5 separate regions of the Homo sapiens genome follow, and all the other regions are reported to be linked to region 1. Evidence: microRNA targets listed by miRTarBase, many of them from high-throughput screens and not tested one by one. Region 1 holds a microRNA gene; each other region holds the end of a gene's coding sequence.

Region 1 (5,000 bases):
GCGTGGCCGCTGCGGAAGGGCGTCCGCCCGGCGTGCGGAACGCTGAGGGTATTCGGATTGTCTTTTATTTGTCCCTGTGGCTTGCTTTCACAGTGTCTACGTAGGAGAGGGGTCGGGGTTGTTGGGGTCTCTTTTTTTTTCTGGGAGGGGTAGCTGAATTGTGGGAGACCTAGGTGGACTTGACTTGGCTTTCCTGCTACTCTGCGTCTCCTTCTCAAGATGCGGGGGTTGGAAAGGGGACAGGGGACTCAAGGCTTAGAAAAGAGAAGGAGCCCTCTGCTGCCTGGAGGGCTAAGGGAGTAGAGAGTGGAGATGGAGGTGAGTAGGGATGGGCCAGCCCGAAGAGCACTGAGGAGGAGAAGGGGTCTTCTCCTCCCTCGGGTCCAGTGGATGAGTTTTGCTGGGAATGAGAATTCGGGTGTCTGTCGATAGGAGCGCTGAGAAATTGATGAGAAATTGACATGTCCGTGCACATGCATGAGGCGGCGACAGGATTTGTGTGTAAACAGTGTGGAGAGGTGGAGGAGGGCATGGGGGTGGGGGCTTAAAATGATGTCTTATTGTCCTTTTGGCTTTAGGGACTCTCATCCTCTGTCTCGCCCCCTTTTTTTGACCCGGGGATCCAGCCGCATTATACACGAGTGACCTTTTAAATCTACGTCCACCCTTTACCTGGTAAAGCCCGCTGACAGTTGGGGGTGGGGTGGGGAGAGTGTAGGGGTGCTCTCTCCCTCTCTCCCTCCCTCCGCCTCTCCTCCCTCCCTCCCCCCTGCACTCCTCTCTCTTCCTCCCTCCCACCTCCCTCGCTCCCGCCCTCCCTGCTGCATTTTGCATGAGCTATCTAGGTCATTAGCATTTTAGCGTATGCAAGACTTGACAAAGCTGATGAGGGGCCAGATGGGCCTCGCTCTTATGGTTTTTTTTTCTTCTTCTTCTTCTTCTTCCTCTCTCTCTCTCTCTCTCTGTCTCTCTCTCTCTCGTCTCTCTTCCTTTCCCCCCTCCACCACTTGGGACCTGAGCGAGAGGACTGCAGCAGGCGAGTTCCGGAAGGCTGAATCCCCAGGTCCCAGCCCCGGACCGCGGCAACTCGCCCCTGCGGCACGCCCGGCCCGGCTGCGCCCCCACTCAGCGATGGAGGTAAAGAGGCGGCGGCCGCGCGCCCTGCCCCGGCTGCCGCTGCCGAGTCCCCGCTGCTCTCCTTGTCCTTCGCTCTCTTCTTCCTCCTCCTAGTCCCCTTCAGTTTCCTGGGCGAAGCAGAGGGCGACATGGGTGGGTGGGTTGCTGCGCTGGGGCGAGGTGGGGTCGATGTTGTTTTTTCATTGTCTGGAGCTGCAGGGGAGGCGAGGCGCGGGGAAAGGGGCGAGGGGAGCCGGGGTAATTAACACGGGGGAGGCACCCCTCCGTCTCCCACTTCCACCCACACCCCCATCCCTCCACCCCCTCCGCTTTGCAGGAAAAAGCCTGGATGCGAAAGGATGGGGGAGAACAAAGAGCCTTTGGAAGACGTCGCTGTTATCTCATTGTCTGTGTGATTGGGGGAGCTGCGGCGGGGAGGATGCTGTGGTCCCTTCCTCCGGCGTTCCCCACCCCCATCCCTCTCCCCGCTGTCAGTGCGCACGCACACGCGCCGCTTTTTATTTCTTTTTCCTGGTTTTCTTATTCCATCTTCTACCCACCCCTCTTCCTTTCTTTCACCTTTCCTTCCTTCCTTCCTCCTTTCCTTCCTCAGGAGAAAGGCCTCTCTCTCCGTGTTCACAGCGGACCTTGATTTAAATGTCCATACAATTAAGGCACGCGGTGAATGCCAAGAATGGGGCTGGCTGAGCACCGTGGGTCGGCGAGGGCCCGCCAAGGAAGGAGCGACCGACCGAGCCAGGCGCCCTCCGCAGACCTCCGCGCAGCGGCCGCGGGCGCGAGGGGAGGGGTCTGGAGCTCCCTCCGGCTGCCTGTCCCGCACCGGAGCCCGTGGGGTGGGGAGGTGTGCAGCCTGTGACAGACAGGGGCTTAGAGATGCAAACAGACTCAGGGAGAGAAACAGAAGCTGATTCTGTGACAGAAGCAGATCTGTGCAGCACAGATGCGGTGTGCGTGGGGAGGGGGTCGCCTGGGAGCGCATTGCGGAGTGCTTGTGTGTGCAGATTTTTCTCTGGGCTCAGGACTCATTGTATGTGGGTCAACACCTTCCTCCGTGACTGTGTTTTTGTTCTGAGCTGAGTTTTTTGGTTTGCCCTTAAAAAAATAATAATTTGGCATCCAGAGACTGGCAGACTGCCTCAGGGCCTGGACTGCGGATATATTGTGTTCTGCTTGAGGTTTGGGGAGGAGGGCAGGCGGTAGGAAGGGAGAGGGGGAGCTGTTTGTCACACTTTGCTGTAGAGCTGAGAGCACCTGACAAGCTTAAGGAAGTCGTTGGGCTATGTGGACAAGAAGGAGCCAGCTCCCAGCGGGTTCACAAGCTCTATCGGAGTTGAAAGCGTGGTCATGGCTCTAAGGAGCACCTCACGCCCTCCCTGTAGCTGTTATTGCAGTTTCAGGCAGAGATCCAGGAGCTGCAGAGGAAGGGAGAGGCACAATAACCTACATGGACCCAAGGGAGACATGTGTTCCTTTAAAAATGTGAACAGAAGGAAAAACAGAATGTGTGCAACTGGGGGTCTGAGGAAAGACTGTTTTGAAAGAGGCTGTCAGGGAATGGAAAGGGTTAAGCTTTTCATCCTGAAGAACCTGCTTCCCAAATCAGGCCTTCCTCCCATCACTAGACCCTGAGCAGCAGCTGGTCCTAGAGACCCCCCTCGTACTGCGCTGCCACAGTCTCATCCCATTTCCAGCTCTGTATTAACCACCAAGCTGCAGCGGATGGGGCAAGACCTAAGCTCATTAATTTCCAGGTGGAGGAAATGGAGGAGGGGCAGGTCCCTGCAGTAGAGGGAGGAGCAGAGAAAGGAGGCCAAGAGCTGGATCCTTCTGCCCAGGAAGCCTGCTGCATCCCTTCCCCCGAGCATGGCAGAGGCCTGGCTTTGCAAGGCCAAGGCCATAAGGGATGCTTAGGAGATTAATTTGATTCCTGACACAATAATCAAGCCCTAAGAGTCTCCACTGAAGCTTACTGAGGACTTCTTTCCTCTCCAAAGCCTCAGTCTAGCCTGCTAAATAAATTAGTATTCAGTGATGCCTTGGATCAGGGCCCCTCCCCGGCCTCAGTTTCCCCAAATATTTATTAAGTACCTACTGTGTGCAATCCTTGTGTAATTATTAACTCTTAGGCTCTTCATTTGCCCTCCTAAAGCAGTGTTTAGAGTCAGGCAGAGGTTAAGTGTGTTGCACCTCACCTAGATACTTCCAGAACCTTCTCTGGGTCTGCAGAATGTGGCACAACCTGCTTGCCCCCGCAGAGAGAAAGCTGCAGTGCACATCCTGCAGACTGCAGGTGCTGGGCTGCCTCTGGAGTCCCAGAAGGCAAGCTTGGCTGCAGGACAGAAAGGGAGAACAGCTTCTCTCACCCCTGAGCCTTCACAAGCCCTTGTCTATTTGCCGTTGCCTTCAAAATATACCTCCCCCGAAACCAGTAGCTTTCTGAGTCCTGGTGTCCCCTCCGCCCTTTCTGGACAGGTTTGGGAAGAAGAAAGCAGTCAGTGCTGGGCCTTATTGGGGTGTGAAGCGCCTTGCTCTGCCCCTTCTGCTCACTGTGAAGGCCGCTGGATGCTTCTCTTAGGCATGGTTTAAGCCTCCGATTACTAAACCCCTTGCCCCACAAACGTCCACATTGACGAGCCTCTTTTTAGTAACTGCTTCCCCGTAATTCCTTCAGAGGTTGCTGTACCCTTCGCTGATGTGCTGCCCTCCTGTAAAACCTCCAGATGCCTTCCCACGTAATGCCCCTTTCAGATGCTTTAAGCTGAGAGCTTAAACCACAGGTACCATGGCTGACGCCTGCCAGGTTTCTGCTGCAGATAATCTATGATGGGAGGGGCATATTTTTTACTTCATTACTTATGTAAACTCTTGTTCCAGAAAGCTTTAATGTGTGTGGGAGTGTTCTGGGTCTATTAGGTCTGTGCGCATGGGTGTGGGCATTTGCCTGTGTCCACCGGGTGGGTCTCATTATGAAATGTATGTTTATGTAGGGCTTTAATGGCTGAAAATGGCAAAGAGATGAATAGACCACTTGGCCCCATGTGTAATTGCCAGGCCCCTTCTGTGCTCAAATGAGGTGTCCGAGTGAAGGTCAGCCCTTCCCTTCTGTATTTGGGGCCTATTTATGCCACCAGTAATTTTATAAGAAATCTGAATAGTTCTCCCCTTTGAGTGCATTTAACTCTTTAGTATCTTCTCTCTTACCTATTTGAGCCCCTCTAGCTACAGTCTGGCTTAAATGAAAGGGGAATTATATGCTTAAGAAAAAGTAGGACACGGTTGAGGCAGTTTGCTGACTGAATACGCGAAGAAGGACCTGATGGGCTCATATGCACCACTGCCATCACAGTCCCCATCGTGATGCAAGCTTATATGATTCTTGAGGTAACTCTACCAGATACTTCCAGATTTAGAAATGTGTCAAAGGAAAAATTGGTGATACTCTTCTTTCCCCTGCCAGAAACAGCCCAGATCTCCTCTTAAGCGGAAAAGAGATTGACCTTCTAGCAGAGGCAAAGGTAAACTCCTGTAAGTTACTTCTGTTACCAAAGGGAGGGGGGCGGCTTTTGTGAATGTATGAGGAGCTTTTGCCAGAGAGATATTCGGAGGAGGGGTGTGCCCATATGCACACATATATTTTCCCGCATAACCGTATCCAATGCTAGCATTTAGAGGAAGGCATTTAGCCACCAAAAGTCCATCCATCTATGCTGCTTCCACAGAGAAAACATTTTCTCTTTCCTCCTCTTGAACTTACATAATATCCTCCTCCCATTCCAACCTTAGAATGGAGTCTTCTGGGGGCAGCTGCAAAGCGTTCTCCCTAGGACAGATGGAGCCTCCCTTTCCTCATCTACTCTGTGGGT
Region 2 (5,172 bases), not on the chromosome of region 1:
TTTTTGGTAGAGATGGGGTTTCACTGTGTTGATCAGGCTGGTCTCAAACTCGTGACCTCAAGTGATCCACTCACCTTGGCTTCCCAAAGTTCTGGGGTTACAGGTGTGAGCCACCACACCCAGCTGAACTTCTGATTAGGCACAACTATTTCCATCTTTGTCTCACTTGCATTACATGTATGAAAGCCTGCTTCTTATCACTTGTCTTTGCATTTTATTTTCTCATTTTCTAAATCATTTTTTAAAGTAGAAAAATAGAACAAAACATTAAAATTATTTGCAATTGCATCCTAACTGTTCAAGGTGGCGTTACGGACAAAACTGAACTAGCTGGTGGCTGGTAGAAGGCATCTCTGTATGTTTACATAGTAAAAAGTAATTTTTAGCTGAAGTTTGAAAGCCTAAGATTGATTTTACCACATATCATTTAGATGTATCGATATATAATGTATACAAGTAAAAGTTATGTAAAAGTTCAGTGCATTAGCCATATTGAAATCCCTAATGTACTTAAAATATAATCCATACAATTGCTCTAAAATAAATCGATTATATGAAATCATCAACATCAAATGGCCATAAGACTTCTACTCTGTTTCATACCCTGGCATTCTTTTGGTCTCTGGCATTAATTAGCTCAAAAGTTCTTGGTTGTTCTAAGCATTACCTGGAAAACAATGACATAATTAGGAATAACAAAAGATAACTTTTCCTTACCAAAAGTTAGCATAGCATATTATAGCAACCCATCCCTAAACAAATGGCACTATGTTACTTTGAGTAATTAATAAAAACGTTGTTTGAATTGGTATTCATGTTTAATGTTCTGTATTTAGGAGAAGATGGGCGGCTGGCATATGAACAATTGGACAAATTTCCTCGAGACTGTGTTAAAGTCGGAGGTCGTCATGGAACTGAAGTTGCCACAGCCTTTTAATTACAGGTTAACTGCCTAACAGCTGTCTTAATATCTGGCCCTTTTCATCAGGATGGTGCTGTGGTTTGGGCTGGAAATTGTTTAGAGCCTGAGAGACACGACAACTGAAATAAAAATGTAGGCCAGGTGCAGTGGCTCATGCCTGTAATCCCAGTACTTTGGGAGGCCAACGCAGGAGAATTGCTTAAGCCCAGGAGGTTCAAGACCAACCTGGGCAACATAGCAAGGCCCTGTCTCTACAAAAAAAATAGTTTAATTAGTCAGGCGTGGTGGCATGCACCTGTAGTCCCAGCTACTTGGGAGGCTAAGGTGGGAGGATTGCTTGAGCCCAGAAGATTCAGGCTGCAGTGAGCCATAATTGCCCCACTGCACTCCAGACTGGGTGACAGAGCAAAACCCTGTCTCAAAAAACAAAACAACAACAACAACTAAAAAAACATGTTATAGAAAGAATTCAGAGTCTCGTTTCACAGTACCTATCTACTTTTCCTTTGGCCAATATAGAATAGGGCTATGGTATAATTCAAATATATTACATCGTCGATTGTGTCTAATAATACTCAGTGAAAGAGTCCATCTTATCTTAATATGTATGAAATTTAAAAATAGCCATCTTTGTACTTTTTTGCAAGTTTCTCTATAAGCTTGAAATAGTCATGTGATACTTCGACAAACATCATATGCCTTGCAGTTTTTCTCGGTCGTGTTCTCAGGGTTGAGTAGTCCCCTTAGCTACCTAACTTTACTTTCAATACAAAGCACAAAAAAGAATATCTTCAAATAAAAGTTTGCCTGCAGAACCTGGCAAAATGACCCATTAGGAGAGTTTAGATGTTTTAATTTTATGTGCTCCCAGCTACTCTGGAGTCTGAGGTGGGAGGATCACTTGAGGCAGAGGTTGCAGTAAGCTGAGATTACACTACTGCACTCCAGCCCATGTGACAGAGGAATGAGAGCCAGTCTCAAAAAAAAAAACAAAAAACTCCCATAATTTATTTTGTTTCTTTTCCCCATCCTGAAAATTCCCAAATCATGTTTCCATTATGGAAAAATGATAAGTAAATGACTAAGAACTACATTAAGATTATGCCTATACACTTAAACAAAAAACTCAAAGCTTATGCTTTTTTTTTTTTAATTAATGAGAGCTATTTTTTATGATATTCTTACCATAGGGGTGTTTTGCTGCTAAGACAAATCAAAACCAAAAGCTGTAGATTCACAAACCTGTGATGCTCTTTGAGGTGGAGGAACCTAGAAGTCAGAGAAATCCTAATGGAGTAGGAGTGGAGGAACATTTAAAGTGGTCCCTCCTTCTGTAAAAATGACCGTGGGATTAGAAAGAAGGACATCCTGAGGGGTGGTTACTGCCCCCAGGGAAATCACTCACTGGTAGGATTCCCTGGCCAAATAGTTCAAACATCAGGTCCCATTATTGCTTCAGTATCAGAGATGCAAGTTCATTAAGCAAAGTACAAGACCATTCAGTAGCTCTTATTAAAATATCTTTTCTTCCTCTAAAGAGTGTACAAGGTGGGGTATGCCAAGGTATCAAAACAATATATGTGAGTGTAATTTAAACTGTGGAATATCAACTGTACTATGGACGTGTTTGTATCATTTAGATGTCATTTTAAATATTTACATTTTAGCAAGACTTTTAAAAAGGACTCATTTCATTTCAAAGTGCAAATTGTTTGCCAGGCTTCTGGCAAATGGTTCTTTCAACTGTGAACTTATCGTGTACATATCTGTATATTTATAAATATTATATATATTCATACATCCTTCACTTTAAAGGTACATTGTACAGTCTGTAGTTAGGAGGTATAGCCTATAGCTTATGTTAAATGGTTGAAATGGTTCTTTTTATAGAAAGTCAAACACAGATGTTACAGGATTTTGTGTTTGGTTTGTCATTTTTTTATTTTTTATTTTGACTATTGCATGAGTAATTAATTCCAGATCTTTTGTATTCACTTCTGTATTTTATGTTTGGTTGAGGGGTGCTTTTAGTTGTGTGGCATTTGTATTCATTGATCTTTCAGTCATGTAAGTTAAAATAAAAATTATTTTTGAATTACTAGCATCATGTGCAGTCTGATGTTATTTTTTTTCACATGCCCTTTCTGAGTTGGTATTTACAGAACACACTGCACCTCATTTTCACCTTTATTTTATTTTATTTATTTATTTTGAGACGAAGTTTTGCTCTTGTTGCCCCGGCTGGAGTGCAACGGTGCGATCTCGGCTCACCGCAACCTCCGCCTCCCGAGTTCAAGCGATTCTCCCACCTCAGCCTCTCGAGTAGCTGGGATTGCAGGCATGCACCACCACACCCTGCTAATTTTGTATTTTTAGTAGAGATGGGGTTTCTCCATGTTGATCAGCTGGTCTCGAACTCCCAACCTCAGGTGATCTGCCCGCCTCGAGCTCCCAAAGTGCTGGGATTACAGGTGTGAGCCACCACAGCTCGTGCTTTTATTTTCAATTTGAAATTCCTTTATCTCTAAATAGAGATAATAAATCTCAGTTTGTTGTAAAGCTAATTGGAGAGAAAACAGCTAAGTTTCACTGTTGTATCTATGAGCAGAGACTGTGAGCTCCTTGAGGGCAAATAGGCATGGTGGCTTACCCCAAGATCGTGCCACTGCACTCCAGCCTGGGCAACAGAGTGAGATTCTGTTTCGGGGAAAAAAAAATAAAAAGTGCCTTCACTGATTTGTGTATGTTCTGTTCCCACTCAGACCCCACCAGCATCATCACAAAGAAGCCCTTGACTTTCAACTCTGACAGTATTTACCAAGTGACTCGTTAAATACCAGTGATTGCTTTTACTGAGTCAGTGGTACAAACATTTTCCTCTATAAGGTTTGCTACTATACTGTTTAACTAAATTGCCTTAGTTACTTTACAAAATTGTAAAGTAAAATTGTAAACCTTAGTTCACTGAAAAATGCCAGTACTTCTCGCTGTATCAGAAAAACTCAAATAAAATACTTTTATCCCTGACTTTTCCTGGAGACAGTACCTCTTAGTAAACAAATATTATCTTTTGATTTTGAGACAGTCCTAAGTACACCTTGTTCAAGGAATAATAATTGTTTGCTAAAAATTAGAACTCTAACTTCTCATGCATTCAACAAGTATTTGTTGCTTACTTACTATGAACGAGGTGTATGCCAAGGACTGTTCTTGGCACTGGAAATAGAGTAGTAGAGAAAAATAAAAGACACAACAATCCCTGCCCTCCCAGGCCTTATATCCTGGCAAAGCGAAGACAACAAAGCAGAGAAGGGGAAAAATGATTGCACAAGGTGGGGTGAAGACAGACACAGGGAGAAAGCAAAGATCACAAGTTTAAAGAGAGTAGTCAGGGGCCGGCACAGTGGCTCACACCTGTAATTCCAGCACTTTGGGAGGCCAAGGCTGAGGATCCCTTGAAGCCAGGAAATCAAGACCAGTCTGCATGGCATACTGAAACTCCCATCTCTACAAAAATTTTAAAAACCAGCTGGACGTGGTGGCGTGCACCAGTGGTCCCAACTGCTTGGGAGGCTGAAGCAGGAGGATTGCTTGAGCCCAGGAGTTTGAGGCTGCAGTGAGCTACGATCGTGCCACTGCACTCTAGCCTGGGTGACACAGCAAGACCCTGTGTCAAAAAAAAAAAAAAAAAAAAAAAAAGGAGTGCAAAGGCCTCACAGAAAATTACATTTGAGGAATGACCCGAGGAGCTATTGGGATGAGTCACGTGGATTATCTCTGGGAAGAACCTTCCAGGCAGAGGCAACTGGAGGCAACTAAAATATTCCTCTCTAAAATGCTGGAGATTATAGTGAAAAGGTTAAAACAGGGACATATTCTGCCACTCCTTTCTGCCTTGGTCAGCTCATAACCAGAGCTCAGAGACAGCACTGCCAGAGGACCCAGGAACAGACTTTACTCTTCCCATCAACTTACCTTCAGGCATTTTCTCACCTTTCGGAAGCCTGAAGATGGTCTTTTCTTTGTCTTGTCACTAGATAGGATTCATGGCTCTTAGTTAAAATGCTATTTAAGCAAAGCCCCTAAGCCACTGCCTAGAGAGAGAAATACTTTGGAACTGAAGTCTCTCCTGCACATTGGGTACAACACACATTAATAAACTTCCGTTTATTTTTCTTTTGTTAATCTGACTTTTATTTTCAGGACAGTGTCTCAACTAAAAATGTAAAAAGGGGAAAAAAAGAAATGAT
Region 3 (5,000 bases), not on the chromosome of region 1:
GGCAAGATACTAGAAATAAGTTGAATAAGAATCTCATAACCAGCCTGGGCCACATGGTGGAACCCTATCTCTAAAAAAATTACAAAACTTAGCCAAGCATGGTGTCAACGTGCCTGTCGTCCTAGCTACTTGGGAGGCTGAGGCAGGATAATTACTTGAACCCGGGAGGCGGAGGTTGCAGTGAGCTGAAATTGAGCCACTGTACTCCAGCCTGGGTGACAGAGCAAGACTCTTTTTCAAAAAAGTCTGGGGGTGGCCCCGCCCTGTGAGAGATGTTTTTCCAGCAGTCACTGTGGGTTCTGGGTTGGGGTGATACACAAGCCTGACCCTCCCCAACCCCTGCCCGCAGACGAAGGCCTTCATCCACCACGAGCTGCTGGCCTACCTATACTCCTCGGCAGACCAGAGCAGCCTCATGGAGGAGTCGGCTGACCAGGCACAGCGGCGGGACGACATGCTGCGCATGTACCATGCCCTCAAGGAGGCGCTCAACATCATCGGTGACATCAGCACCAGCACTGTGTCCACGCCTGTACCCCCGCCTGTCGATGACACCTGGCTCCAGAGCGCCAGCAGCCACAGGTCCGGAAGCCTGGTTCCCCTACCCTCAAGCATTCGGCCTGCAGGTTCCTGCCCTCCCTGTGTGTCCTGCAGGGTCCTGGCAGGAAACAGGACACAGCCCAAGGGTGGCACCCAGGGCTGGGCACTGTGGGAGCTGCTGCCCTGCTGAGGCCGGAGGAGGGAGAGAAGGGGTATGGGGGCGAGCCAGCCCTACAGCTCTAGGGCAGGACCCTGTGAATAAATACCCCGCCTGCCCTCTGCTGGTGCCTTCCATTGGCACAGCCCAAATGGAAGCTGGGGTAAGAGGCTGGAGGGGCAGCAGCCACAGGAGAGAGATGAGCCTCCTGGAGCACAGAGAAGGGCAGATGGGAGGCTCTGGAGGGGCAAACGCAAGGCGTGGCCAGAGCTGCTGCCGCCCCTGAGTTGTCCATTGAGGCCGTCGGGCAGGGAACCTCAGAGGGGGCTGCCTTGCAGAGCCCTGGGGGAGCCATGGAGTTCCTTAAGGGGAGGATATCGCACCCAGGCCTGCAGGTGGCAGGGACTGAGGCCCAGGAGGGAATCTGGATGTCTGGACAGGGCTTGCAGGTTCCACGGCCCCTAGAGATATTAGGGCTTGATCTGGAGGACTCTGGAAGTGTCTTTGGCTGTGAGGGTGGATCCCAGGCCCAAGGCCTGAGGGGGCCCTGTGAGTGGGAAGTGCCTGAGGGGGCCGAGGGCAAGGGAAGGTGGGACTGGCGCTCAGGTTGGGGTGGGAGGATCCCACTGCGCCTGCGCTGTCCCCATAGCCAGCCCCCACCTCAGGTTCTGGCAGCCACAGTGGCATGGCGGGGGCTCCTACTCCATCTGTATCTGTAGCTCACACCCTCTCCTTCCTCACAGCCCCACTCCACAGCGCCGACCGGTGTCCAGCATACACCCCCCTGGCCGGCCCCCAGCAGTGAGGGGCCCCACTCCAGGGCCCCCCCTGATTCCTGTTCCCGTGGGGGCAGCAGCCTCCTTCTCGGCGCCCCCAATCCCATCCCGGCCTGGACCCCAGAGCGTGTTTGCCAACAGTGACCTCTTCCCAGCCCCGCCTCAGATCCCATCTCGGCCAGTTCGGATCCCCCCAGGGATTCCCCCAGGAGTGCCCAGGTAAGGCCAACCCCCTGCCCTCCACCCCAACTGCCTGCACCCTGGGGTCTCTCCTCCTGTCTCACTTCCTCCCAGTGAGCTCTCACTACGTGCCCAGCTGCTGGAGTGGAGGAATCGTCCTCATCCCTATTTGGCTTGCGAGGAAACAGGCCCAGAGAGGCCAAGAGGCTTGTTCAGTGTCACAGAGTAGCGGAGCCCTGGTGACTCCGGGGCTCCCAGCTTGCCCTCTGCCTACTGGGGTGTGCCACCAGGCAGCTGGGGAACCCTCACACTGGGCACCTCCTCCCACTGTTTACCTTCTTCTCCTTCCTGCTCCTGCCTGCCTCAACCTACCGTGGGCCAGGCTTTATTCTCCCCACTTCTCCGGTGGGGAAGCTGAGGCCCAGGGAGGGCAGGGGGCTCACTGAGGGTCAAACAGCAGGCGAGTTGATGCCTAGGTTTGGCACTCCTGCCCGACACCCTGGTGGCTTGCGGAGGTCAGCCTGGGAACACCCTGGGGTGGTGTGTGGGTGGGGGCTGGGTCCTCAACCCAGGCCTGCCTCTTGCTCCCGGCCTCACTGCCGTCTCCCCCTCCCCACCTGTCTTTATTCTCTTTGCAGCAGAAGACCCCCTGCTGCGCCCAGCCGGCCCACCATTATCCGCCCAGCCGAGCCATCCCTGCTCGACTAGGCCTCGAGGGGGGCGTGCTCTCGGGGGGGCCTCACGCACCCGCGGCGCAGGAGCTTCAGTGGTCTGGGGCCCTCCGCCGCCCCTATGCTGGGACCAGGCTCCCAGTGGGCAGCCCTGGCCTCTTCCTTAACGCTGGCCCCGGTCCAGGGCCGGCCCCTGTGCCTGGCTGGACACCGCACTGCGCAAAGGGGCCCTGGAGCTCCAGGCAGGGGGCGCTGGGGTGTTGCACTTTGGGGGATGGAGTCTCAGGGTGGCAGAGGGGGGACCAGAACCCTTGACACCATCCTGAATGAGGGGTCCAGCCTGGGGGGGACTCTACCAAGGTCTTCTTGGGCTGGGAAAGCCCATGTAGGGCAGGCCTTCTATAAGTGCGGGCACCAAGGGCGCCTACATCCCCAGGCCTTGCTGGGGTGCAGGGGTATATCAACTTCCCATTAGCAGGAGCTCCCCAGCGGCAAGCCTGGCCCAGTGGGCTCGGTAGTGCCCAGCTGGCAGGCCTGAGGTGTACATAGTCCTTCCCGGCCATATTAACCACACAGCCTGAGCCTGGCCCAGCCTCGGCTGCCAGAGGTGCCTTTGCTAGGCCCGGAGCCGTTGGCCCGGGCCGGCCTTGCCCTATTCCTCTCCTCCTCCTCCTCCTGGGTCCCCCAGGGTGGCTGGGCTTGGGCTATGTGGGTGGTGGTGGCGGGGGGTCTTGGGGGCCTCTCAGCTCCCGCCCATGCCTCCCTGATGGGTGGGCCCAGGGCGGCCTCTCTCTGAGGAGACCTCACCCACTCCTCGCTCAGTTTGACCACTGTAAGTGCCTGCACTCTGTATTCTATTAATAAACTAAAATAAAGGGAAGACGCTGCTGGTGGCTGCTGTGTGGGCCTCTTGTGTTAGTGTTCAGGCTGGGGACATGGGTGCCACCTCCATCAGGCCTCCCATAAGGATGCCCAAGTCCCTGCACTCATAAGTGCCTCCCATCTCCCTGAGGGCTCTGCTTTCGGGGGTGTCACCTTTCAGAGGAAGCCACTCGATACAGGGGAGAGCTTTTACTTTCCTTAGCATGTGAGGAGTGGGAGCAGATATTCTCTGACCCCCTGCACACCCCCACGTGCACAGGCCTGGCTGCTGCCTGGTGAAGCGGGGACCCCAGCGCTCCACCCCCTTCCTACCCTCAGGCCCTGCTTCTCTCACCTCGTGGGGAAGCCCAAGCCTCGTGGCCCAACTGGGGCTCAGTTAAACTTTGCTTTCTGATTTTTCTCTTGTGCCAGGCGACCACCTCCATCGGCTCCCGCACGACCTTTCTTCTGAGCTTCGTGGGAGGCCCCTCCCACCTGTCTGGCTGCCCCCTCGGGGGCCGGTCTGTCCTGGCTGGTGTCCCTGAGCCCCAATCAGCAGGCTCTTGTGATTTTCTGACCATAATTTATTGACTCCAATGCCCAGGCCACACCACCCTTTGTTATAGGAGGCTTCTGCCTAGACTTTGGCCGGGCCATCCCTCATGCCTGTGTGGGGCCCCTGCAGGAGAGGGGCCGGGGCAGGTGGTCTTCCAGGCCCCCTTCCTGGCATTCTGTTACCAGACCTCAACCTGGCTTGGAGGGCCCAGGTTTCCTTGTTAGGCCCTGCCCCGCACCAGGCAACGCTAACACAGGATGGGAGGCTTAGGCTAAGGCACATTTACAGTAGAGGGGCCAGGAAATCCGAGGCTCACGTTCCAACGCTGCAGTGCCCACCATGTGAGATTTCCAGGACCGTCGGTGCAGCCACTGAGCCGTCCCTTCTACAAGCCAGAGGTGTTCCCTGCCCGCTGAGGACGGAAGGAGACTCATGGGGCCAGACCGCAGGCCCTGACTGCACACTCCCGTTTTGGCAGGAAACTAAAATTGGGGAGGGACCCCCAAGTCTCATATGCACACACCCTGCTGCCCCTCCTTTGTCCCGTTCTTCCTTCCATGGCAGGGGCTACGTGGGCACCGGGCGCTTGTCCTGGAAGAAGCGCTTGAGCGTGCAGACCTGCAGCACAGCCACCAGCAGCAGCACCGCCACGTTGACAGCTGACCAGAAGTTGACCCGCTCCAAGTTGCCCTCTTGCAGGTTGCGGTCACGTGCCTCGAAGGCCCGCAGTAGCGTGAGCATCTGGATGCTGCGCTCCAGCCGGGTCCGCATGGTCTCAATGGACTCCTACAGGGCAGCGGGAGGGGAAGGGTCAGGCCTCCCTCCACCCATCAGGGAGCAGAGACCAAAAAAACCGGGGGATACGGAGGGAGGCTGTATTAACCCTGGGAGGTACAGCTGCAAACACAGACTTGTTCAGGCTAAGTTCAAATCCTCACCCTGCCACTCACTGGCTGTGACCATGAGCAACTTAATTAACCTATCTGAGCCTGTTTCCTCTTCTATAAGCTTCCAAATTGCTGTGAACATTTAATGCCTAAATAAATGTACAAGGATGAGCATGGTGGCTCATGCCTATAATCCTAGCACTTTGGAAGGCTGAGGTGGGAGGATCGCTTGAGCCCAGGAGTTTGAGACCAGCCTGGGCTACATGGCAAAACCCCATCTCTACAAAAAATTAGCCAGGGGTGGTGATGTGCAACTGCAATCCCAGCTACTCAGGAGGCTGAAGCAAGATTACACCTGTAATCCAAACACAG
Region 4 (5,172 bases), not on the chromosome of region 1:
AATTTAAACTTACAGTTAACAATATAAATTAGTAAACTATGACTTAATATAAAGTAGCTACTTTGTGGTTTTTTTTACATGACGAGATGCAAAATTAAAATGGATGAGCTTACCCAAGACATTCACCTTATTGTTCAGTTGTTCAAATTTCAACTTTTTCAAAAAGTTGATTTATTCAAATCAGTATACAAAGGTAACACTTGCATTTTTGTGTTTCTTAAATCTTTTAATGGTCCCTCCTCCTTTTCCCTACAACTTGTTAAAGAAAACTAAGTTATTTATCCTGTAGAATCGCCTGTTCAGAATTTTGTTGGCTGCGCCCCCATGGTGTTCTTTAATGTGTTCCTTTGTGCTGTTCACTCTCCATTTACAGATAGGTGTAGGAGCTTGATTCGATTCAGGGTTTTTGTCTTTTGGCCGAACACTTCATAGGTAGTGCTGGGTACCTGCTGAGTCTTATCAGAAGGCACACTACTGTAAGATTGACCAGTGGGTTCCGGTGTTGCCATTCTCATCTATCCTTACAAGGTTTTTTATCAGTTTTTCAACTAATAGCCTCTGAAGCCATTGATGATCATTGCTTAGATTTGTCAAATTAATGGGAATTGAAAAACAGCGATATTCTAACACTTCTTCTGCATTTGTTAATTGAAATAATTCTACGTAGTCAACAAAATTTTCCCTTCATAATTTGATCATCCTGAGGTAAGGCAAGATAAATGTTTCTTTTTCTCCGATTTAGCAGTTTTCAGAATGATTTTTTCAATATCCTTTCGAAGGTTACCAAGGTAGTTTGTTGTTTTTGGTTGCTGGTTTTAGTAGCATTTTGAATGCATAGGTTTACATATTTATAACAACATGTTAGAATCAATTTCAGTTATTAGTCTTACTGATCATGAAATTGCTCCATGTATACAGCCAGTGGTTCAGAATCCCTGCAGTTGGATCCAGAGTTTCTGAGAAAAACAATGGTGTTTAAGTTTTCCTGCTTTGGTGATACTGAGTTTTTATTGTAATTTTTTAGATGTAAAAATAGTATTGTGAGGCCAGGCGCGGTGGCTCATGCCTATAATCCCAGCACTTTGAGAGGCCTAGGCAGGCGGATCACTTGAGGTACGGAGTTTGAGACCAGCCTGGCCAACATGGAGAAACCCCGTGTCTACAAAAAATATAAAAATTAGCCGAGCGTGGTGGTGGGCACACCTGCAATCCCAGCTACTCGGGAGGCTGAGGCACAAGAATCGCTTGACCCCGGGAGGCAGAGGTTGCACTGAGCCGAGATCGTGCCACTGTACTCCTGCCTGGGTGACAGAGCGAGAATCAGTTTCAAAAAAAAAAAAAAAAAAAGTATTGTGTTTTACTAGGAGAAAATGCGTAATATAAATCTGAGATGTAATGATACATCTCAGATTTGCTTCAAAATAAGCTGGAAGCAAGTAGTTTAGAGATGAAACTAGTTTTGCCACATGTTGTTAACTTTTGAAGTTAGTGTAATGATATACTACTGTTCATTATGTTATTCTCTTGCATACATTTGAAAATTTCCATAATGAAGTTTTTCTTTTAATTCCATTTTAGTGGTAAAAGTTTTTTAAAAACTCACTACTACAGAAAAAGAAAACACACATAACCTTAAAGCCTGGTGCACACCCAATCAGATAGTTCCCTCAAAATTCTAATTAAAGTGCATGCAAGAGGAAACTAGTAACTTATCTACTCAAACTCACTTTCCACTCAAGAAAAATGTGGATATCTGAAGTTAAGAAATAGTCTGAAAAGTGTGATTCTTAAAGTATTCTTTATTAAGATCATTAAAAGTTGTAGAAACAACTTTATATTATAAAGGCACAGGGAGACAGTTCAATAAAATATTCAAATTAACAGTAACTTACAGTACAAAAGACAATTTTAATGCACATACAAACCCCAAATGTCTGATTCAAAAATATTTTACTGCGTCTATTAATGGGCAATGATTAAAAATATAAATTGCTGCCATATAATAAATATCTGATAGTGAACATCTTGATAGCAAAGTGAACAAAATATTTATTGCTTTTCACTTACATATTTTTCCCTGTAATTTTAAATTCCTAATTCTTTTACTATCTTCTCAACTTTTCCCAAAGATAAAATAAATTTCACATAATTTCATGGAGGGGAAATGGTAGTTGTAAAAAACTACCTCAAGTAGCAATCACCGCTGGCAGTGTTTTCTCACTTTCTGTTCTGCAATTGCAATCACACTTCCAAAAAGAAAAGCAAATGTTTGCTAAACCATAGACAGACAACCTCTTTGTGACTGGTATTATAAGGTTTATAATGAAAACTTATCAAATATAAAAGGTGCTCCCTCTTGAAAATGTGTATTTTATTTGAAGTTTTGAGTAAGAGGTGAGTGTTTGGCAATTTTCAACACTCCCCTCAAAAATCTCCCAAAGTTGCAAAAAAGTCAGTTTAGTAAAATTCCAAGCACTTAAATGCTTCATTGAGGGCCAGTTGATATACGCAATGCACTAATGTGTAAAAATTAACCGAATGCAACTATTTTATAATGGAGAGCTCTTACCTTTTCCTTCCAGTTTTTAAACTGGCATAAACTTTATTGACTTCATCCTCCTATTTTTATAGCAACCTAGTTTTAGATGGTACAAGTTGAATTTCTATCACAAGACAATAAAATAACATGAAAGCATTATCCTAGTTAATGCTATTTCAACTTAAGAAATATCTACATTGAAGTATTTGATAATAATTGTAAAGTTACTTAACCGTATGTCATGTTCAGACAGTATGTAGCAGCTAGTAACGTGCCTGGCACAGAGTTGATGCTTAATAAATAGTTGCTGAATAAATGAAAAAGAAAAACCTGCCTTTGGTTGTGCATACTTTAATCACTTTCTGATTTAGAAAAAGATCAGTCTAGAGCTCACTACTGCACACTACATCAAACTTTGCTGTAAACAAAAGTAACAACTTCAAACAGAAAAATATTACCTGTTAGTGATAGTCAACTTATATAAAGAGCCCACACATTTCTATGCAAATAATTAAATTTGATGTTCTGATGTTTAACCCTTAGGTAAAGAAGACCAAAGTGTGCTGACTGGCTAATTTGTATGCTTTATAGTAATAATGATTAGTTCCTCAATAAATGAAAAGTTATGATGCCCGATTAAATTCAAACAATGGCTACCATGTTAATTTTGCAAAACTACCCATGAATAAAAGGTAGGATAACTTTAAATTACTTGAAAGCAGTAGTTTAACTTTCAACAGAAAAAATAATCAGGAAGATCTGAATTTAATAATGACAGAGCTAAAATACTGGAAGTAGGGTGGTAAGAATAAGTAGCTGACCAATTCTATTTTAAATTCTAAACATGAGATTAGGTGTAATATTTCTTTGGCATATGCATTACTATCTTGGACTAGTTAACACTTTTTAGATACTGGGTTGTATTTTTTTTCTGAATCAAAATTAACATCAATATATAGATTCTAGTATATTCTTCTTAAAGCCTTTAGAAAAGATAAAATGACATTTTGCAACATATGCCAAACTTCATGTTTAGTGTACACTTCTAATTATTGGCATAGAGGGATATAACTGTTAAATAACCTGAAATGACACCATGCAATGGTGAAACTACAGAAGTTGGTGAAAAGAAGTATTTACATAATGTAATATTTAGCTTTCTTTAAAAAAAAAAAAAAAAAACACAGTAAACCTGGGAATCCTGCCCTAACAGTAAATATGTACCAAATAGCACTGAATGACAACTATTAAAAATTTAAATGAACACCTACAGTAACCTGAATTTTCAAAATTTAATTAAAAAAAAAAAGGGGGAAAAAACCCTACACATCAGAAGGAAAAAGCGGCCTATAAAACAGACCAATCTGACTTGACATTCAAAGTAAATGCAAGAGATTCACAAAATCATGATAGTAAATGCAAACTAAGTACCAAGTACCCTTTGATACACAAGCCAATGTACTATCAGACTCATTTCCAATAGCTTAACAATATTCATTAATCCACTCAAGCATTCCGGGGTAGTGGGGAGCAGCTGATGACAGCTCAAGCCTCCAAAGTATAAGAACATACTTATTTGCAGAAGCATCATGTGATTTTTGAAGTAATGTCTTATTTTGATGGATGTTAACATTAAGATCTATCAGTGCAAGTTTATCATCCTCTGAATGTAACACTTCCAAATTTCATTTTTTCAGATCGTTTTTTGGTGGTTTAGTTTTAGCCAGTGCTGTTTAAATGGAGAAAAAAAGAAAAGTTCACCATAGACTACCTCACGTTGTTACTTAATTGTGCTAGGTATTCACGCAGTTCTTTTGCAGCCTGGAATCTGCCATAGCGCTTCTTTGGGTTGGCACACTCATCCAGCAAGGCCTCGAGCCGGCCATCTTTGGCAATTTCACTTGGTGGATCATGAAGGAGTCCTCCAGAAGTGCCACGCCAGGTGGCATGTCTGGATAAGAGGTTCTGACAAACAGCATAGTAATTGTGGTCCACAGTGGCACGAGCACAAAGAATTTCTTTTGAAAATGATAAGCAAGCCTCCTTATCACAGTCATCAAACTTGCTTTCATACCATACATCCCAATTTTCAGGTTTATCTGTGAAAGGAGGAAAAGCAGAAGTAGAAAAAAATTTTTTAAATAGTTTTCATTGCTTCCAAAAATAGAATATTTCACTAATTAATAGTATTTGTTCTACACTTTTAGGTAAAAGTATATTATAACCATAAACATTTAAATATATAAATTCATACAAACATTCACTGGGAGCCCACTAACGCTAGGCAGAAAGATTCAGAAAGGTCTCTACCACTTACAGGTTTAGTCTAGCGACTTTCCATCATACACAGAAAGTGCCATAAAGAAATATGACACAATGCTACAGGAATAGTGGGGAATTAAATTAGCACTTGTCCCTGGGGCTGTAGAAGGCTGCAAAAAGGAGAACATCTGATTTAGGTCTTAAAAGAAAACAAATCTGAAAAGAAACTAGGAAAAAATAGCATTCTAGGTTCAGGACACAGTATATGCAAAGACATGGACATAAGGGATTGCTCCATTTGGTTCACGAAGCAATAAGTTCACTGTGGCTAGAGTGTGAGAAACGTAGTTGGCAAGGAGATACAGGTGACG
Region 5 (5,172 bases), not on the chromosome of region 1:
TTCTTTTTAAAATCCCAAAATAAAATGAACTGAAGATAAAGCATAGAAAATGTTGATCGGCATGTCAATATCTTTATCTTTTCTCTGCTTGTATGTTCCAGGTGGGAGAGTTCAGAGCACACGCTGCTGAGTGGACAGCCAACGTCACAGCCGAATTCAAAGAAACCAGGAGGCGACTGAGTGTGGAGATTTATGACAAGTTCCAGCGGGCCACCTCCATCAAGCGGAAGCTCTCGGCAGAACTGGCTGGAAACCACAATCAGGAGCTGACTCCTTGTAGGAGGACCCTGTCAGTGAACCACCTGACCAGCGAGAGGGATGTCTTGCCTCCCTTACTGAAGACTGAGAGTATCTATCTGAATGGTTTGACGCCACACTGTGCTGGTGAAGAGATTGCTGTGATTGAGAACATCAAATAGCCCTCTCTTTAAATAACCTTAGGCATAGCCATAGGTGAGGACTTCTCTATGCTCTTTATGACTGTTGCTGGTAGCATTTTTTAAATTGTGCATGAGCTCAAAGGGGGAACAAAATAGATACACCCATCATGGTCATCTATCATCAAGAGAATTTGGAATTCTGAGCCAGCACTTTCTTTCTGATGATGCTTGTTGAACGGTCCACTTTCTTTGATGAGTGGAATGACAAGCAATGTCTGATGCCTTTTTGTGCCCAGACTGTTTTCCTCTCTCTTTCCCTAATGTGCCATAAGGCCTCAGAATGAATGAGAATTGTTTCTGGTAACAATGTAGCTTTGAGGGATCAGTTCTTAACTTTTCAGGGTCTACCTAACTGAGCCTAGATATGGACCATTTATGGATGACAACAATTTTTTTTTTGTAAATGACAAGAAATTCTTATGCAGCCTTTTACCTAAGAAATTTTCTGTCAGTGCCTTATCTTATGAAGAAACAGAACCTCTCTAGCTAATGTGTGGTTTCTCCTTCCCTGCCCCCACCCCTAGGCTCACCTCTGCAGTCTTTTACCCCAGTTCTCCCATTTGAATACCATACCTTGCTGGAAACAGTGTGTAAAATGACTGAAGTGATGATGCCCGAAGATGAAATAGATGCCAAATTAGATGGACATTGAAGCAACACTCAGCGTTGCCTAGCGTTAAAGGCACTGCAGAGAAATGAGGTGCAGAGGTGGCCCCTCTGAGTATTTATTTGACTCAGGTACCAGTGGTACATATATACAGTGTAATTATGACCAGGCTGGTAAAATTGGCTGCTCGCAAACAATCCCCTTTTTTCCTGGCAGTATTTGGAATTTATCATTTATTAATAACTATACATTTTTAAAGGCAGAAGAAGAAAATCTATCTATCTATCTATCTATCTATCTATCTATCTATCTATCTATCTATCTAAATGACCTGACAGAAGAAAACTGTTAAAAATGGATATTATTGGAGGGGATTTAAAACAGTGGGTGTGAATTATCATTCTGATGGAAAGAAAATAGCAAAACAATGTGTTACAAGTATTTGCTAATAAACAGTATACTGCCAGCTTCTAATTGCTTTTTGATGTATGAAAGGCTTATATAATTTTCTTTTCGTTGGGTGACTTTTGCCAGATGAGAGGAGGTGGCACAGTGGTGAGTGCAGGGCACAGTCCTAGCCTTCTGTGGGTATACTTTTGGAGTTGTGACTTGGCTGTGAGGGCAGAAGTTGAAGTTGGGATCACTGTGACTTTGCACATGGAAAAATGCAGATTGCAGGCATAATTCATCTCTGACATTAGAGAAAAAGCTGTTATAGCACAATTTAAATTTTGAGAGTTTGCTGTGTTTTTTTTTCACATAAAAGAGGCTGATTATTCTTTTTAGTTTAATTTTATATCCTGTAATTCTTTGGATGGTTCCAAGATTCAGAAAAAATTCAGTAAATGCACCCCGTAAATTGCTACCCTTTCCTTTATTTTCATACTTAGATCTGCTGTACATTGTATATATATATAATTTTTAAAATGCAGAAAGAAAATAATTTCCCTAAATATAATTGCAAACTGATTTCTTTTACTTTTTTGTGTGTGGGGGTGGGAGCTGTATCTGAATAAGTGGCATTCAGATTAGGGTCTTGAAAAATAAACCCAGAATCTTTAAAAGAAGCAAATAAACTAATAGACGCTTATTTTCCAAAATTTAAATTTAAGCTAGAAATGTAAATATTCAATTAATTTGTTAAAAGTACTTTTATAAAGTTAAAAAAAATCCAACCAAAATTTTAGAAAGTCAGGCTCTTTTAGAAAGAAAGCTACACCCATTTCCTCAAATAACTGTTCCGAAAATTTATATGGTGGAATGCGCCATGTATAAACTGTGAATTGTATTGACAAATAAAGTTTGTAATTAAAGTCAGCATTTTCTGAGTCTCCTGCTTGCTGCTGAGAATTCAGATATGATCTAGGTAGGTAGAACTCCAGGATGTTACTTTTCATGCTGAGTTTGTGTCCCTCCTTTATTCAAAATATTTAAGAAATATTTTTGATGCATTGATACTACCCTTGCTAAATACATGCAGACTGTTTTCCTCAGTGGCTACTCACTAAAACCAAATATACTGAAATTCATTTTTGAAATAAGATATTTGAAATCGCATATAGTTTCAAGATTGTTTCTATTATATTACCATATATTTATGCCATATTTTATCATTGTTAGACCTTGTCTTGACACTGAAGTAGACTGAATGCTGAACACAGGTGCCTGAATGTGTTTTTTGTAAGAAAAAGACAAGTAAGCATCCTGGTGGTATTGAAGTCTAAAGAAGGTAGTTACCAACCGATCTTCTAGACCTTATACCACAAATGTTTGGACTACTTACCTTGTTCGTATCCTACATAGATTTATTGATTAATTCCTAAACAATTTGATGCTCAGTAAGTATTCTGAAACTAGCCCCCCACATTACCCTTAGGATTAGGGGAATTTTAAGAAAGTGTGTATTATGTGAACTGAAATCACTTTTATTTTCTCAAGCTTTATTTTGTTTATTTCTTGTAGGGAGAAACTTGATAAAGATTTTGACAAAACGTGGAATTTTCTAGTGAGTTTATTTTTCCATTAGGCCAATATAAGAGTGAGTAGTTTTTCCTGGAAAGATATTTGAAAAAAAACTACTAGAACAGAAAGTATCAGGGACTCCCTAATCTATATCCCTAGATGTAGATTTTAGAATATGCTCTCTATCCAACCTTACAGCCACTAAATGTGAAAGTGGTTCTTTTGGAGTTCTTTCAATTTCTTACATAGATCTATATACTGTGCTACATAGTCCATGTGACACACCTTGTTTTCCAATAGTATTTCACTCTTGTAATGCAGAAGAAAGTAAAACTTCTGAGGCCAAGAGGAAATTGAATAATGTGCATCTTGGCCTTCAAAAAAAGAAAGAACCGTGTGTAAGGCTTTGTTTATTTCTCAAATTTTAAGGAACACATGACATAAAAGACCAAATCCCATCTAATTCTGTGTCAAAAATCAGTAGAATTATTTGACTCTTAAAGCTTAAAGTTCAAAGAGACTTAAAGTTTTAAATGGAATACCAAAAAACAAATTTAGACATTCTGAAGATTTGAAATAGCTGTTTATTCCTAAGAATTAGAGGTCTAGATCAACTTGTCTTTCTTTTTTTGTTGTTTTTAATTCTTGCTGGTCTAGTAAAGCTGTAACTTATTTGGGATTTGCATTTCTTATTAAAATGTAAGTATGACTTTGTTTTTATATAAACTAAAGGGTTTTTTTATTTGAACGTTCATAACTCCATTACAATTAATGTGTGATATTTGCTTTAGCATGATTTTACTTAAATTTCCTCCCATAGTGAAACTGGCCAGGTGCGGTGGCTCACACCTGTAATCCCAGCACTTTGGGAGGCCAAGGCGGGTGGATTACTTGAGGTCAGGAGTTCGAGATGCAGCTGGCCAACATGGTGAAACTCCATTTCTACTAAAAACACAAAAAAATTAGCCAGGCGTGGTGGCGCATGCTTGTAGTCCCAGCTACTTAGGAGGCTGAGGCAGGAGAATTGCTTGAACCCTGGAGGTGGAGGTTGCACCACTGCACTCCAGCCTGGGCGACAGAGCAAGACTCTGTCTCAAAAAAATAAAACTAAATAAATAAAATAAAATAAAATAAAATAAAATTTCCTCTCATAGTGAAACTGGCCTTGCATATGCTCATGTGTCAGTTCCAAGATAGAACAGGATAACCTGGTTATTTCTGACAGAAACATTTGAGGGTAACGTATTGTAGTTATCTTAATATAGGGGGAGCTTCATAAGCTACACTTGCTTTCTTCCTCCCCCAACCACCTCAACGACCCTCTCAAAGATTTTCCCCTCTTGTTTCATACATGATACTTCCCCAGCCATAACTCAACTACCACTTCCTGAAAGACAGGGATTGGTTTCATGGAACAGGAGTTTTGGTCTTGCTCTTTTGTTTTGATTTGATTCTGTTCACTAAACCCCGGCTTTTACAATTTCTAATATTTATAAAGCCGTTTATTGTTTTCCTAGTATTAGCTTTACAAAATGTTTTCATTGTGTTAGGCTTGTCTCAATTTACAACTATTTTTTCTTTTTATCTGGCATTCCTTGTTAAAGTATTTTTGTATAGTCACCAAAAACTCACTGCCTAGTCTTTATTCTGTTTATTTTGAACCTTTAGACTTGGACTTCTTGCTCTGGATTCATCAAGCTAACTCACATGGGTATCTTCAATTCTAAAACGGACCTCAACAGAACCAAGACTCTTTTATAATCTTTCCCCAGACCTGGCCTTCTTCTGGTATCATCTATTTGAGCGGATGGCATGACCATCCCTCTGGCTGGGCAAGTCATCCTTGATATCTTCTTCTCTTCCTCAACTCTATCTCCACTTATCACCAAGCTGTTGACTTGTAAACTAAATATGTTTTGAATTTGTACACAGCCATTGCCTTAATCCAAGTCAACACCATCTTTTCCCTTCACTCAACTGCTTTTATATCATTCTTTTCTTGTCATTGATGGTGAAGAGTTGTTTTTAAATTTGCAAATTGTCTACAAGGCCTTCTTCTAATTAGTCTACTTTATGCCACCCTCTCCAGACTCATCTTGTATCCCTCTCTACCTCTGTGAACCCCAGCTCCACTAGATTTCTCACTTCTGTCACAAGGTTGTG

Evidence for each region. The annotated mature microRNA hsa-miR-124-3p reads UAAGGCACGCGGUGAAUGCCAA and lies in region 1 at 1,787-1,808, shown strand. An mRNA with a match to its seed (bases 2 to 7 or 8) in the 3' UTR can be bound and repressed. Matches are read on the target gene's strand: a 7mer-m8 pairs with bases 2 to 8, a 7mer-A1 pairs with bases 2 to 7 and ends in A, and an 8mer does both.
Region 2: miRTarBase lists RIPOR2 as a target of hsa-miR-124-3p. The part of its 3' UTR that is shown has no 7-base or 8-base seed match.
Region 3: the mRNA of TMED1 is a reported target of hsa-miR-124-3p. Seed matches in the 3' UTR shown: 8mer at 4,014-4,021.
Region 4: the mRNA of DIPK2A is a reported target of hsa-miR-124-3p. Seed matches in the 3' UTR shown: 7mer-m8 at 1,843-1,849.
Region 5: miRTarBase lists KCNK2 as a target of hsa-miR-124-3p. Seed matches in the 3' UTR shown: 8mer at 892-899.

The regions. Positions count from the first base shown.
Region 1 is chr8:9,900,207-9,905,206 of GRCh38, reverse strand. MIR124-1 (microRNA 124-1) reads left to right here and starts at 1,735; the gene lies at 1,735-1,819. MIR124-1HG (MIR124-1 host gene) reads left to right here and starts at 1,878. Exons shown (of 3, transcript NR_024281.1): 1 at 1,878-4,518; 2 at 4,595-4,652; 3 at 4,921-5,000. LOC124902057 (a long non-coding RNA gene) reads left to right here. Exons shown (of 4, transcript XR_007061170.1): 2 at 1-48; 3 at 579-675; 4 at 1,020-1,137.
Region 2 is chr6:24,802,138-24,807,309 of GRCh38, reverse strand. RIPOR2 (RHO family interacting cell polarization regulator 2) reads left to right here. Exons shown (of 22, transcript NM_001286445.3): 22 at 837-3,026. The coding sequence ends at 937. Among named protein-coding and RNA genes, the nearest start is that of ARMH2, 5.8 kb to the right of the region's middle.
Region 3 is chr19:10,828,687-10,833,686 of GRCh38, forward strand. TMED1 (transmembrane p24 trafficking protein 1) reads right to left here. Exons shown (of 4, transcript NM_006858.4): 4 at 3,381-4,527. The coding sequence ends at 4,309. DNM2 (dynamin 2) reads left to right here. Exons shown (of 21, transcript NM_001005361.3): 19 at 350-582; 20 at 1,441-1,692; 21 at 2,292-3,217. The coding sequence ends at 2,361. MIR6793 (microRNA 6793) reads left to right here and starts at 287; the gene lies at 287-349.
Region 4 is chr3:143,988,976-143,994,147 of GRCh38, reverse strand. DIPK2A (divergent protein kinase domain 2A) reads right to left here. Exons shown (of 3, transcript NM_173552.5): 3 at 1,780-4,638. The coding sequence ends at 4,307. Among named protein-coding and RNA genes, the nearest start is that of DIPK2A, 20 kb to the right of the region's middle.
Region 5 is chr1:215,234,727-215,239,898 of GRCh38, forward strand. It overlaps KCNK2 (potassium two pore domain channel subfamily K member 2), which reads left to right. Exons shown (of 7, transcript NM_001017425.3): 7 at 102-2,364. The coding sequence ends at 419. Among named protein-coding and RNA genes, the nearest start is that of KCNK2, 150 kb to the left of the region's middle.